3 linked regions of the Homo sapiens genome follow. The protein of the gene in region 1 purifies or fractionates together with the protein of each later gene. This does not show direct contact. Each region holds a gene or a part of one and is shown on either strand. Other genes may lie near its edges.

Evidence for each region.
Region 2: the proteins of CDH13 (region 1) and AGPAT5 purify together in Homo sapiens (affinity purification with mass spectrometry; 2 studies listed by BioGRID and IntAct, with this or other methods). This does not show direct contact.
Region 3: the proteins of CDH13 (region 1) and VMP1 purify together in Homo sapiens (affinity purification with mass spectrometry; 2 studies listed by BioGRID and IntAct, with this or other methods). This does not show direct contact.

Annotation. Positions count from the first base shown.
Region 1 is NC_000016.10:82,629,927-82,633,678, forward strand, and holds part of CDH13 (cadherin-13 isoform 1 preproprotein), read left to right. Parts: intron 1-3,752.
Region 2 is NC_000008.11:6,706,470-6,710,221, forward strand, and holds the start of AGPAT5 (1-acyl-sn-glycerol-3-phosphate acyltransferase epsilon), read left to right. Parts: upstream 1-2,172; 5' UTR 2,173-2,199; coding exon 2,200-2,418; intron 2,419-3,011; exon of another isoform or gene 3,012-3,073; intron 3,074-3,752. UniProt on the Homo sapiens protein: Converts 1-acyl-sn-glycerol-3-phosphate (lysophosphatidic acid or LPA) into 1,2-diacyl-sn-glycerol-3-phosphate (phosphatidic acid or PA) by incorporating an acyl moiety at the sn-2 position of the glycerol backbone.
Region 3 is NC_000017.11:59,731,618-59,735,369, forward strand, and holds part of VMP1 (vacuole membrane protein 1), read left to right. Parts: intron 1-3,720; coding exon 3,721-3,752. UniProt on the Homo sapiens protein: Phospholipid scramblase involved in lipid homeostasis and membrane dynamics processes. Has phospholipid scramblase activity toward cholesterol and phosphatidylserine, as well as phosphatidylethanolamine and phosphatidylcholine.

The sequences.
Region 1 (3,752 bases):
CTAACCAAAAGTTCTAACAATGAGTGAGTAATCCCCCAAGAATTAGGAATTTAGGGAGGGGTTCAGGCTTGGAGGACAGTCGCTTGGGAGTGACTGAAAATGTTCCATGGAATTCTGAGATTTCGCTATAAAGTGGGGAGTTCTCTCTAGGGGTCAGAGTCTTGATTTTCAGGATTTTCAATGAGAATCAGTGTCTTATAGTGCTCCTGCAAATTTGTGTGTTATGTTTTAAGAGCAGTGTTTATTTGCAGAACTTTTTGGATGAGGAAAAGGACACAGGGTTGAAGAGGGTGCTGCCCCCTCCCCCCCTAGGGTCAATACATGACAGCCTGTAAGATTTCCAGAGCACTAGGGAAATGGAATATGTAGTGAAAGGAGTCAGTGATAGAGTTCACCTGTCTGAATATTTTTTTTTAGCAAGTCCCAAAACAGGTTTAATAAACTGCAAAGCTGAGTATGTAATCTGGAATTTGTGTAATTCCACAGTCTATACTAAAAGCCCCAACAGTCATCTTAGCTGATCGCTCCTACTCTGCCTCCCTCCCTTCTCCCCTTTTCTATCTTTAGCCCTTGGGTTTTCCGTTAAGTAAAATCTGTTTACTTCCAGAAGTATCCTCTATGTGTTATAGTGAAATTGCCCAACAAACCAACATACTCAATAACTGCATTATCTAAAAGCATCAGCACTTGGATGTGTAAACTGAGCCTCAATCTGAAGTTCAATGTTTAGGTTAAAGTGTAGCTAGGTTCTTGAAAACATCCTTATTTCCTTCCAAAAATACAATTGCTTGGGGAGTCTAGTTAATTTATATTTAGTGGAATGTAGGAAAAGGACAAACTATGGATTTAATTTACACCTGAATGACAGTCATATCATCTACGTAGCCAACAGTGTTTCTGTGTGCGCGTCTGAGTGAGTGTGTACATCTCTGCATTTTGATCTTGTAATACCTGTTGAAAAATTTCTCCAGAAGAGGGCTCCATCCACAGCATTACAAAATTCTGAATCTACAGCTCATTTTAAAGAACTTCAATGCAGCAACTCCATCAAAACAAAACTATTCTCCTTATTCCACATTAATTGCCACAATCACCCCCAAATGAGAAATCCTGCCATTTTTCACTGTATTTATTTCTGTGTCTCTCTCTTTCTTGCTTTCCTTCTTTTGCTCTCTTGCTTTCTCGCTAGCTTTCTTCTTGCTTTCTTTCTTTTCCCCTATTGTAGTTGGTTCTGTTCTAATTCATTCTTTGACTCTGTATCCCCTCTGAGTATTGGAGCAGGGAAAATTTCAAAGATGTTTGTAGACGGTGCAATACGCAATGTGAGGAAGTTCTGAAATTTCCTGGCATTTGACTTTGGTTGGACTTGATTTCATTCTTTAGGTAGCCAAAAGGCAGGAACAGTTCTGCCTGTGGAAGGAGATAACCTTCCCCCTTACATAACCACCCAGAAGGGTGACTCCTGAGCTAGGTCCACTCACTTTCCATCACTCATTGAAAAGGAGAAGGAAATATCCCCCTGTCATCCAATTACAATAATCAGCTGGACAGAATCAAACCAAGTGACCAGTGGTTTTGGCATTGTTTCTATTTAGCTGTCAGCCAGGTACCCATGCACCTGTGAGAATCTGACCCTCCTGAAGGATGCTGCCAATATAATTCCCCACAGCCCGCTTCTTCTGCAGCCACCTGGGATCCCAGGCCTGGCTCCTCAGGTATGAACAGGCTGCACAGACAATGAATGGCTGGGCTGTAGGATCTCTTGCTCCTGCAGTAGGCACTCAGCAGTGGCCTTATTCTAGAGTTAGGGTGGAAAGTCATCTTTCTCTGCTGAGAGAGGCAGCTTGGGGGAAGGCAGGAGAGGAGAAGAAAGGACATTTCTAACTTGAAGTGCTGACTGAGCCAGGGTCTGTGGAGGTGAATGTGTCACCCTCTGGCTTAGCAAGTTGAACCTCGAGACATCTGCTTGGTGGTAATGGAACTCATCTATCCCAAACCTGCAACTCTGGCTTCTGGGCAGAGGTTGCCAAGTAGCAGCCACAGGCTAAATTTAGCCATGGATGCAGTTTGTTTGGCTCAAATGTTTTGCAAATTGTACATTAATAAAAAAGAAATCCAGGTTTCTAGCATTTCTGAAAAAGTCAGGTCAGGCAACCCTAGATCCACACTTCAACATGGCCGTACTTGACAGGGCTGAGTCACTACTGCCCTCTTTAGGCAGGACGTGCCTCCGTAGCTTGCCATAATCGTCACCACTCTCTACTACCCAGCCTTCTGTGCTCACTAATTTTGCCTGCTTGCCCCTAGGGCTTTTTGAGTTTGGGACCTCTGCTTTCACAAATGTTGAGGTTTGATCAAATTGATGCAGTTTATTTCTCAGTGATGGACTATTTGGAAAGGGAGGGACTGGCCTTTTCTCCTTCCCTGTGATTGAATTCCATTGATGTGTGCTTTGGAACAGCATGACCAAGGGGACTGCAGCCCCTCCCTGAGCACATTACTGGCAGTACTTTTGGACAGGCACCCAGAGAGACATAGCACCCAGATCATTGCTTCAGGTGTAAGAGTCATGCAGAGAAGTGACACGCTGCAGCTCTGAGTCAGTACGAGCCCTGGCACACCAGTGTGTTGGTACAAAATGTCATCACGCACCAGCAGCCAAGGGACTCTGAAACCCTGGGATCATATAGAGGCCTGCATACCCTCTCTGTCAGCAGTCCTCAACCATTTTGGTACCAGGGACCGGTTTCGTGGAAGACAATTTTTCCACGGACTAGAATTGGGGGGATGGTTTTGGGATGATTCAAGCACATTACATTTATTATGCATTTAATTTCTGTATTGTTACATTGTAATATATAATGAAATAATTCTACAACTCACTATAATTTAGAATTACTGGGAGCCCTGAGCTTGTTTTTCTGCCACTAGATGGTCCCATCTGGGGGTGATGGGAGACACTGACAGATCATCAGGCATTAGACTCTCATAAGGAGAAGGCGACCTAGATCCCATGCACGCACACAGTTCACACAGGATTCCAACTCCTATGAAAATCCAGTGCCACGGCTGATCTGACAGGAGGCAGAGCCCAGGCGGTAATGCGAGTGCTGGGGGGCCATTATAAATACAGATGAAGCTTTTGCTTGCTCACGGGCCACTCACCTCCTGCTGTGTGGCCTGATTTCTAACAGGCCATGGACTGGTACTGGCCTGTGGCCTGGAGGTTGGGAACCCCTGCTCTACGTAGTGTTCTACCAAGAGCATGGCTGTCCTTGGAGAACAGTGACAGCTGAGCATCATCATTCCATGAGTGTTGCTCCCTCACGGTATAGACATAACCAGAACGTCACAATAACTTACTCTACTTAGACTTGCCAAGGCCTCCGGGAACACTGCTCTAATATTCAGCACCTTTGTAACTTCAGGATAAAGCTGAATCTGCAGCTCTGTCACCTACTTTTTTTCTTTGAGACGGAGTCTTGCTTTGTCACCCAAGCCGGAGTGCGGTGGCGCGATGTCGGCTCACTGCAACCTCCACCTCCAGGGTTTAAGCAATTCTGTGCCTCAGCCTCCCAAGTAGCTGGGATTACAGGTGCCCGCCACCAGGCCTGGCTAACTTTTTTATTTTTAGTAGAGACGGGGTTTCACTGTCTTGGCCAGGCTGGTCTTGAACTCCTGACCTCGTGATCCACCTGCCTCGGCCTCCCCAAGTGCTGGGATAAACAGACGTGAGCCACTGCGCCTGGCCA
Region 2 (3,752 bases), on another chromosome or scaffold:
GAAATCAGCTGTGCTCTGAAAGAAGCACCATTCCAGTAAAGGGGAGGAAAAGGTCATCAGACTGCAAGGGCTCAACAAAAGTACAAGGTAAGGAGGCAGAGGGTGTGGGCTGATTATCAACTAAGAGGTTTGCACGGAAAAAGGGAAAAAAAAAAAAACAGAAAAACAGGGCCGGGTAGTGGCAGAAAGAGAGGGTGGATCTGTGACTGTTCGCAGGAAGAGAGGAGCGGGAGCAGGACAGACAATAACTGATAGTCAGGAGCTGGGTTTGGAGATAAAGAGGGAACAAGAGAAAGTTAAGTTCTGTGTTTTCATGGCAAACATTGCACAAAAGTTTACAACTTCGTGACTAACAGTAATCTGGGGTGATTCACAACAAATTTACACATAAACACATATTTACTGACTTTATACACAGCAATCCTAACGTGAACACAGAACCTGCTTTATCTTTTCGCACACTGTTCTAGTGTAGAGATGTCTGGTCTCAGTTAAAGAAAGCATAAGGAGCATTAGTTGTGCACACTGTCCACACCTGTGACTTTTTTCCACCAGTACTAAACCTAGTGCTTCTTACAGTACAGGACAATGACAGCCACAGAAAGAGAGAAGCTCCTTTTACTGTGTAATGCTTCCTGCTGGCCTTCAAATACTTGTTACTTGAGAGATCTCCATTCACCTGGCTTTGTCCCCAAAGGTCATCATCTACCAATGATGTTGTTATTTGATGTTAATCATGTATAAAGAAAGTAGCTACCATCCTGGCCCTGATTAGAACTTCCCACTGAAATACCGTCCTGCCTAAAGGTAGCACAGGCTCCCATTATGGTGGTGGTGGGGAGGGGGCGGGAATATATATATATATATATATATATATATATATATATATATGGTAAAGCATTCGGCATTCTTTTAAAGTACAACTATCCTTGAAAAGGGTTACATATTAAACCATTTTTACCACAGCCAAAGGGGAGGAGAAAGATCCAAAAGTCCTGTGGATCTGCTTTAACATCAATAAAACAGTTATCCACCCTTCGTAGCTTTTAGTGAAGGCTACAAAAGTATGCTTTTTATGGATTACACATGTGCACGCAACTACTTTAATTACTACAGAAAAAAACGAGGCTCCTTATTAAAAAAAAATCAGAAACAAGTCCAACAGACTCTGAGGAAATGAAGCAAGAGTGAATTCTGAAAAGGTCTAATAAACAGTATGGAAATATCCTTGTGGGATTGTTCTTCAGCTATGCATAAACATGTAATTATCATCATTACTGTGATGGGGAAAAACACGGACCCTAATTCTGAAACACCCTGGTAGCGAGAGACGGGCAGGAGGGGCTGCTGCGCACTCAGAGCGGAGGCTGAGGAGGCGGCGTCCCCTTGCAAAGGACTGGCAGTGAGCAGATGGGGACACTCGAGCTGCCCCGCGACCTGGGCCGAGCTGCCTACAACCTGGGCCCAGGTGCCTGCAAGAATTAGACCTCCGATAACGTTAACACCCACTTTCTCACTGCTCTAATTGTGTGCATCCCGGCGCCCAGGGGCTTGTGAGCAGCAGGTGCGCGTTCCAGGCAGCTCCAGCGACCCTTAAACCTGACCGCGCGCACGTCCGGCCCGAGGGAGCAGAACAAGAGGCACCCGGACCCTCCTCCGGCCAGCACCCACCTTCACCCAGTTCCGTCAGTCGCCACCACCTCCCTTCCCGCGTCCGCAGCCGGCCCAGCTGGGGAGCATGCGCAGTGGCCGGAGCCGGGTTGCCCGCGCCCCAGCAGGTAGCTGTACTGCAACTGTCGGCCCAAACCAACCAATCAAGAGACGTGTTATTGCCGCCGAGGTGGAACTATGGCAACGGGCGACCAATCAGAAGGCGCGTTGTTGCCGCGGAGCCCCCTGCCCCGGCAGGGGGATGTGGCGATGGGTGAGGGTCATGGGGTGTGAGCATCCCTGAGCCATCGATCCGGGAGGGCCGCGGGTTCCCTTGCTTTGCCGCCGGGAGCGGCGCACGCAGCCCCGCACTCGCCTACCCGGCCCCGGGCGGCGGCGCGGCCCATGCGGCTGGGGGCGGAGGCTGGGAGCGGGTGGCGGGCGCGGCGGCCCGGGCCCGGGCGGTGATTGGCCGCCTGCTGGCCGCGACTGAGGCCCGGGAGGCGGGCGGGGAGCGCAGGCGGAGCTCGCTGCCGCCGAGCTGAGAAGATGCTGCTGTCCCTGGTGCTCCACACGTACTCCATGCGCTACCTGCTGCCCAGCGTCGTGCTCCTGGGCACGGCGCCCACCTACGTGTTGGCCTGGGGGGTCTGGCGGCTGCTCTCCGCCTTCCTGCCCGCCCGCTTCTACCAAGCGCTGGACGACCGGCTCTACTGCGTCTACCAGAGCATGGTGCTCTTCTTCTTCGAGAATTACACCGGGGTCCAGGTGAGCCGCCTCCCGCTCCCGGGTCTCGGCGTCCACCCGAGCTCCCGGGGGCGCGGACCTCTCCGCTCCCCCACAGCTGGCGAGGGTCACCCGGCCGGCCCGGCGGACCCAGCACGGAGAGCACGTGCCGCCTCCCCGCCTTCCTCTCCGCATGCTTCCTGCCGTTCTGCCGAGATCGCTCTCTAGGAAGCTGTGGCTGCGTCGTCCTGAGGCTACGAGTGGGACCCGCCGCCCCTTTCCCCGCCCCTCGCCTGGGTCTGATGCTGCTTAGCAAAGTGGGTGCAGATGCACGTTTTAAATAATAGGGCACGCGTTTAGCAGTTTCTGGCCTTTGGTCCAAAGAGGTGGTCATGTTGGAACAGATCGGAGACGTCTACACTCCGAAGTGCGCTTTTACAGTGACCTCTTGAAACAGAAGTACAATTCGGTCTTGTGTTCTTTCCCCTGGACAAGTGAAAGCTGGGCGAAGAAATGAATACATTTGTTAACCGTAGAAGCCTAACTAGATACATTTCTTGCCAACTTTAACTGGGCTTGAATGTGTGGGTGATCTGTTGTCTGATTACTTTCTTTCTGTTACTGTTTCTCTGTAGAGATTGGATTCGTAGATTAAACTTGAGAAACAAACCATAAAAGTGGAAGGCCCTCTTTAACAGTAGGTATTTGAAGTGTTATAAAAAAAAAAAAAAGGTGAATTTTTCTTTTATTTCTCAGTTTGAAAGAACAGCTTTATTCTTGGTTATTCCTAATGTCCACCTAGTCCTCTTTTACTTTTCTTGGTAGGGTTAGGGTGGCATGGGGAAATGGGACGGTATCATTTTGTCTTTTTAACTTTTTTTTTTTCCACCTACAGCAGCTGTTTTTACCCTGTGGTCAGTCAGGTACTATATTTAGTTTGCAGTTGCACTGCTGATCGACCCTTGATGGCCCCAGTTGGAAGTTGTTTGGGGGGAAGGAACTAGGAGAGGCCAGGGCCTCCATTTAAACCAGTGTCTGTAAGTGTCTCCTTGGAAAGAAAAAAAGATACTGTTCCAGGTCATGGTTTCCTGGTAGTTGACGTTTAAAATGGGCCTCATTTAAAAATTTCAATAATTCAGGCTAATTTTTTCCCTTTATATGGTAACTCCACCAAGTTTGTCTAAATGTATGATTTTTATCATGATTAAGTTTTTACTTCCACATCATGTGACAACTGGCCTGGGATGGGATATAAGCTCAGAACACAAAGTCATTCACCTCTTAAAAAAATAATTCTATCTGTGGCGGGTTATGTTATTTTTGTTCAAAGAGGACACAATATGATGCAGAATACACCATTGAAGGATTTTTTGGTT
Region 3 (3,752 bases), on another chromosome or scaffold:
AATCTTATATTATCTTCTTAGTAAATTAAATTATGGGTCAGTCAGGGCCTGTAAGGTGATATTTCACAGTGATGGCAGAAGGAGCCTGGCCACAATCACATAAACAGTGTTCCAAGTACAAGATTATTACTTGTTAATCTTATAGTATGGTCAGTGTTTATTTGGCTTTGCTCAGTGCTCAATTTTATTGTGCTATTTTGTAATTCTAGAAGTAGATTATAAACTTACTACACTGTTCTTAAATATACAGTTATCAAAAAAGTTAGAATGTGAATATTATTTAAAAATTTATTTTAAAATTATCGTTTGAGATGAATAAACTCATATTTTAACCAAATTGGAATTTGTGGTAAATTTCAGTGTATTTGACTCCTGTTTATACAGTTACCCTGAAAATGATGACTTTTATTAATATGGATGATTTAAGTAGAAACTTTCCTTCATGCATTTAAAGGAAAATGAAAAAAAAGTTTTACTTTTGTTGTAATCATACTTTTTTTTTAGCTTTTGAATTGTTTGACATCTCAAACACATGGCAAATAATACTCTAGTGTGGTAATATTTTCACAGCAATCCTCTACTTTTAGAGGAAGTGCAAGGAATCTGAAATAGTAGTTTTCATTTGTTTGTTTGTTTGTTTGCTTTTTGAGACGGAATCTCACTCTGTCACCAGGCTGGAGTGCAATGGTGCGATCTTGGCTCACTGCAACCTCCGCCTCCCAGGTTCAAGCAATTCTGCCTCAGCCTCCCGAGTAGCTGGAATTAAAGGCATGCGCCACCACGCCCAGCCAATTTTTGTATTTTTAGTAGAGATGGGATTTCACCATGTTGGCCAGGGTGGTCTTGAACTCCTGACCTCGGGTGATCCACCCACCTTGGCCTCCCAAAGTGCTGGGATTACAGGCATGAGCCACCGCGCCCGGCCTCATTTGTTTGTTAATCACCATATTGCCTTGCAGAGGACATTTTGCAGCACTGATCTGACTTTTGGGTTACTTTGGTTGTCAGTAAACTTGGCAATTTCACCAAGAGTTTCAGGATTCAGAGATGGGCATTGCATACATCATAGTGTCTTCCCATTAGGAGCTTTTGTGTGCTATTTTTTTCTTTCCTTTTAGAGAGCACATACATTTGTATATTCTTCCTCTTCTGCTCACCCCATTGGAATTTAAAATTAACATTAGCATGTCAAACTTACTCTTCTGTACCAGGTGTTTTTTAATATTTTAGAGATTATGCTATAACTGTACATGAAAAACTGATTCTTAGGCTGGGCGTGGTGATTCACGCCTGTAATCCCAACACTTTGGGAGGCCAAGGCGGAAGGATCTCTTGAGCCCAGGAGTTTGAGACCAGCCAGGACAACACAGGGAAACCTCATCTCTGCAAAAGATTTTAAAAATTTGCTGGATGTGATCGTATGCGCCTGTAGTTCTAGCTAGCTACTCAAGTTCTAGCTAGCTACTGGAAAGACTGAGGTGAGAGTATCGATTTAGCCCACAAGGCTGCAGTGAGCTGCGATCACACCACTGCACTCCAGCCTGGGTGACAGAGCAAGACCCTGTCCCCCAAAAAAAAAAATTTATTCTTTATTATGGCTGCTTAGTTTTTCTTTCCATTGTACGAGTGTGCTGTACTTTAATCACTCTTCTGTCCTCTATTGGTAATATATAAGTTATTGATTATTTTTTGCTAGTACAAATAATGCTGTGGTCAATAAAGTTGTGCAAGTCATTTCACCTTATACCTAATCATTCCTAGAAATGGAATTACCGGTTTACAGTGTATATGCATTTTGTGCTGGGCGTGGTGGCTCACATCTGTAATCCCAGCACTTTGGGAGGCGGAGGTGCGTGGATCACTTGAGGTCAGGAGTTTGAAACCAGCCTGGCCAACATGATGAAACCTCATCTCTACTAAAAATACAAAAAAAAACTAGCCGGGCGTGGTGGCAGATGCCTGTGATCCCAGCTACTCGGGAAGCTCAGGCAGGAGAACCGCTTTAACCAGGGAGGTGGAGGTTGCAGTGAGCCAAAATCATGCTACCACTGCACCCCAGCCTGGGCAACAGAATGAGACCCTGTCTCAAAAAAAACAAAAACAAAAGCATTTTGTAATTTCAATAGATGGTGACAATTAATAGCTAAACTTAATTGGGCACTTACTAAGTGTTAAACTCTTCTGAGAACTTTACATATATGAGCTCATTTAATCCTTAAAATGACCCTGAAAAGTATGTACTATTGTGATCCCCATTTTACAGAAGAGAAAACTGAGTCACAAAAGTATTAACTAACTTGCCCAAGATCACGTGACTAATAGAAGGCAGAGCCAGGATTGGAACCAACTAGTTTGCCTCACCATTTTTGCGATCTAAACCACTTTGTTCTGTAATATGATCCTAGGTTGATAGAATGCCCTTCATAGAAGGTGGACCAATTTAGACTTATTTCAGTAATTTTCCCAAAATCTATAGCTCTATCCCAAATTCAACTGCTGGAATTTTCAGTACCATTTCTTTAGGACATCCTCTACAAAAGATTCTGATGTTTATCAAGGCAGGGAGTTGGTTTTGCCTCAGTTGTTCTCTAGGTAACACTGATTAAGAAATGGCAACTATAATATAGTAGCCCCCTTATCCATGAGGGATACATTCCATGACCCCTAGTGGATATAGGAAAAAACACTGTGTTGTTCTGTATATAGTAATGGGGTAACATATACAACGCGGATGTACTAAACAAAGGGATGAATCAGGTCTTAGGCTGGATGGAGCAGGACTGGCAAGATTTTATTATACTACTCAGAACAGCATACAATATAAAACTTAGGGGCTTGGCTGCAGTAGCTCACACCTGTAATTCCAGCACTTTGGGAGGCCAAGGCGAGCTGATCACTTGAGGTCAGGAGTTTCAGATGAGCCCAGGCAACGTAGTGAGACTGTGTCTCCACAAAAACCAAAAATATTAGTTGGGTGCGGTGGTACACACCTGTAGTCCTAGCTGCTTGGGAGGCTGAGGTGGGAGGATCACTTGACCCCAAGAGTTGGAGTTTAAAGTGAGCTGTGATTATGCCACTGCATTCCAGCTTGGGCAACGGAATGGAGACCCTGTCTCTTAAAAAAATAAAAATAAATTTAAAACAATAAAACTTATGAATTGCTTATTTTCAGAATTTTCCATTTATTATTTTCAGACCATAGTTGACCATGTGTTACTGAAACTGTAGATAAGGGGGAACTACTGTCATTCATCTTCTTTCTATGCTGAGTTGGGACTGGTTGCCTTTTTTTTTTTTTTTTTTTTTTTGAGACAGAGTCTCTTTCATTCTGTTATCCAGGCTGGTCTTCAGTGGCACAATCTCAGTTCACTGCAACCTCTGCCTCCCAGGTTCAAGGGATTCTTGTGCTTCAGCCTCCCGAGTAGCTGGGATTACAGGCGTGTACCACCATGCCCAGCTAATTTTTGTATTATTAGTAGAGACGGAGTTCCACCATGTTGGCCAGGCTGGTCTTGAACTACTGACCTCAAGTGATCTGCCCTCCTCAGCCTCCCAAAGTGCTGAGATTATAGGTACTACTAGTTGCCATTTTTCACAAGACTCTAGGACTTGCTATTAGTTGTTATTTGGGAGATAAAACTCTTTTCATCTAAAGTGATTGAAGAGAATAAGCATAAATGTTAGAAATTCTGTTTTAATCTCTGCACTATTGTTTTTCAGACCCCTCTTCAGTGAATGAAAAGAAGAGGAGG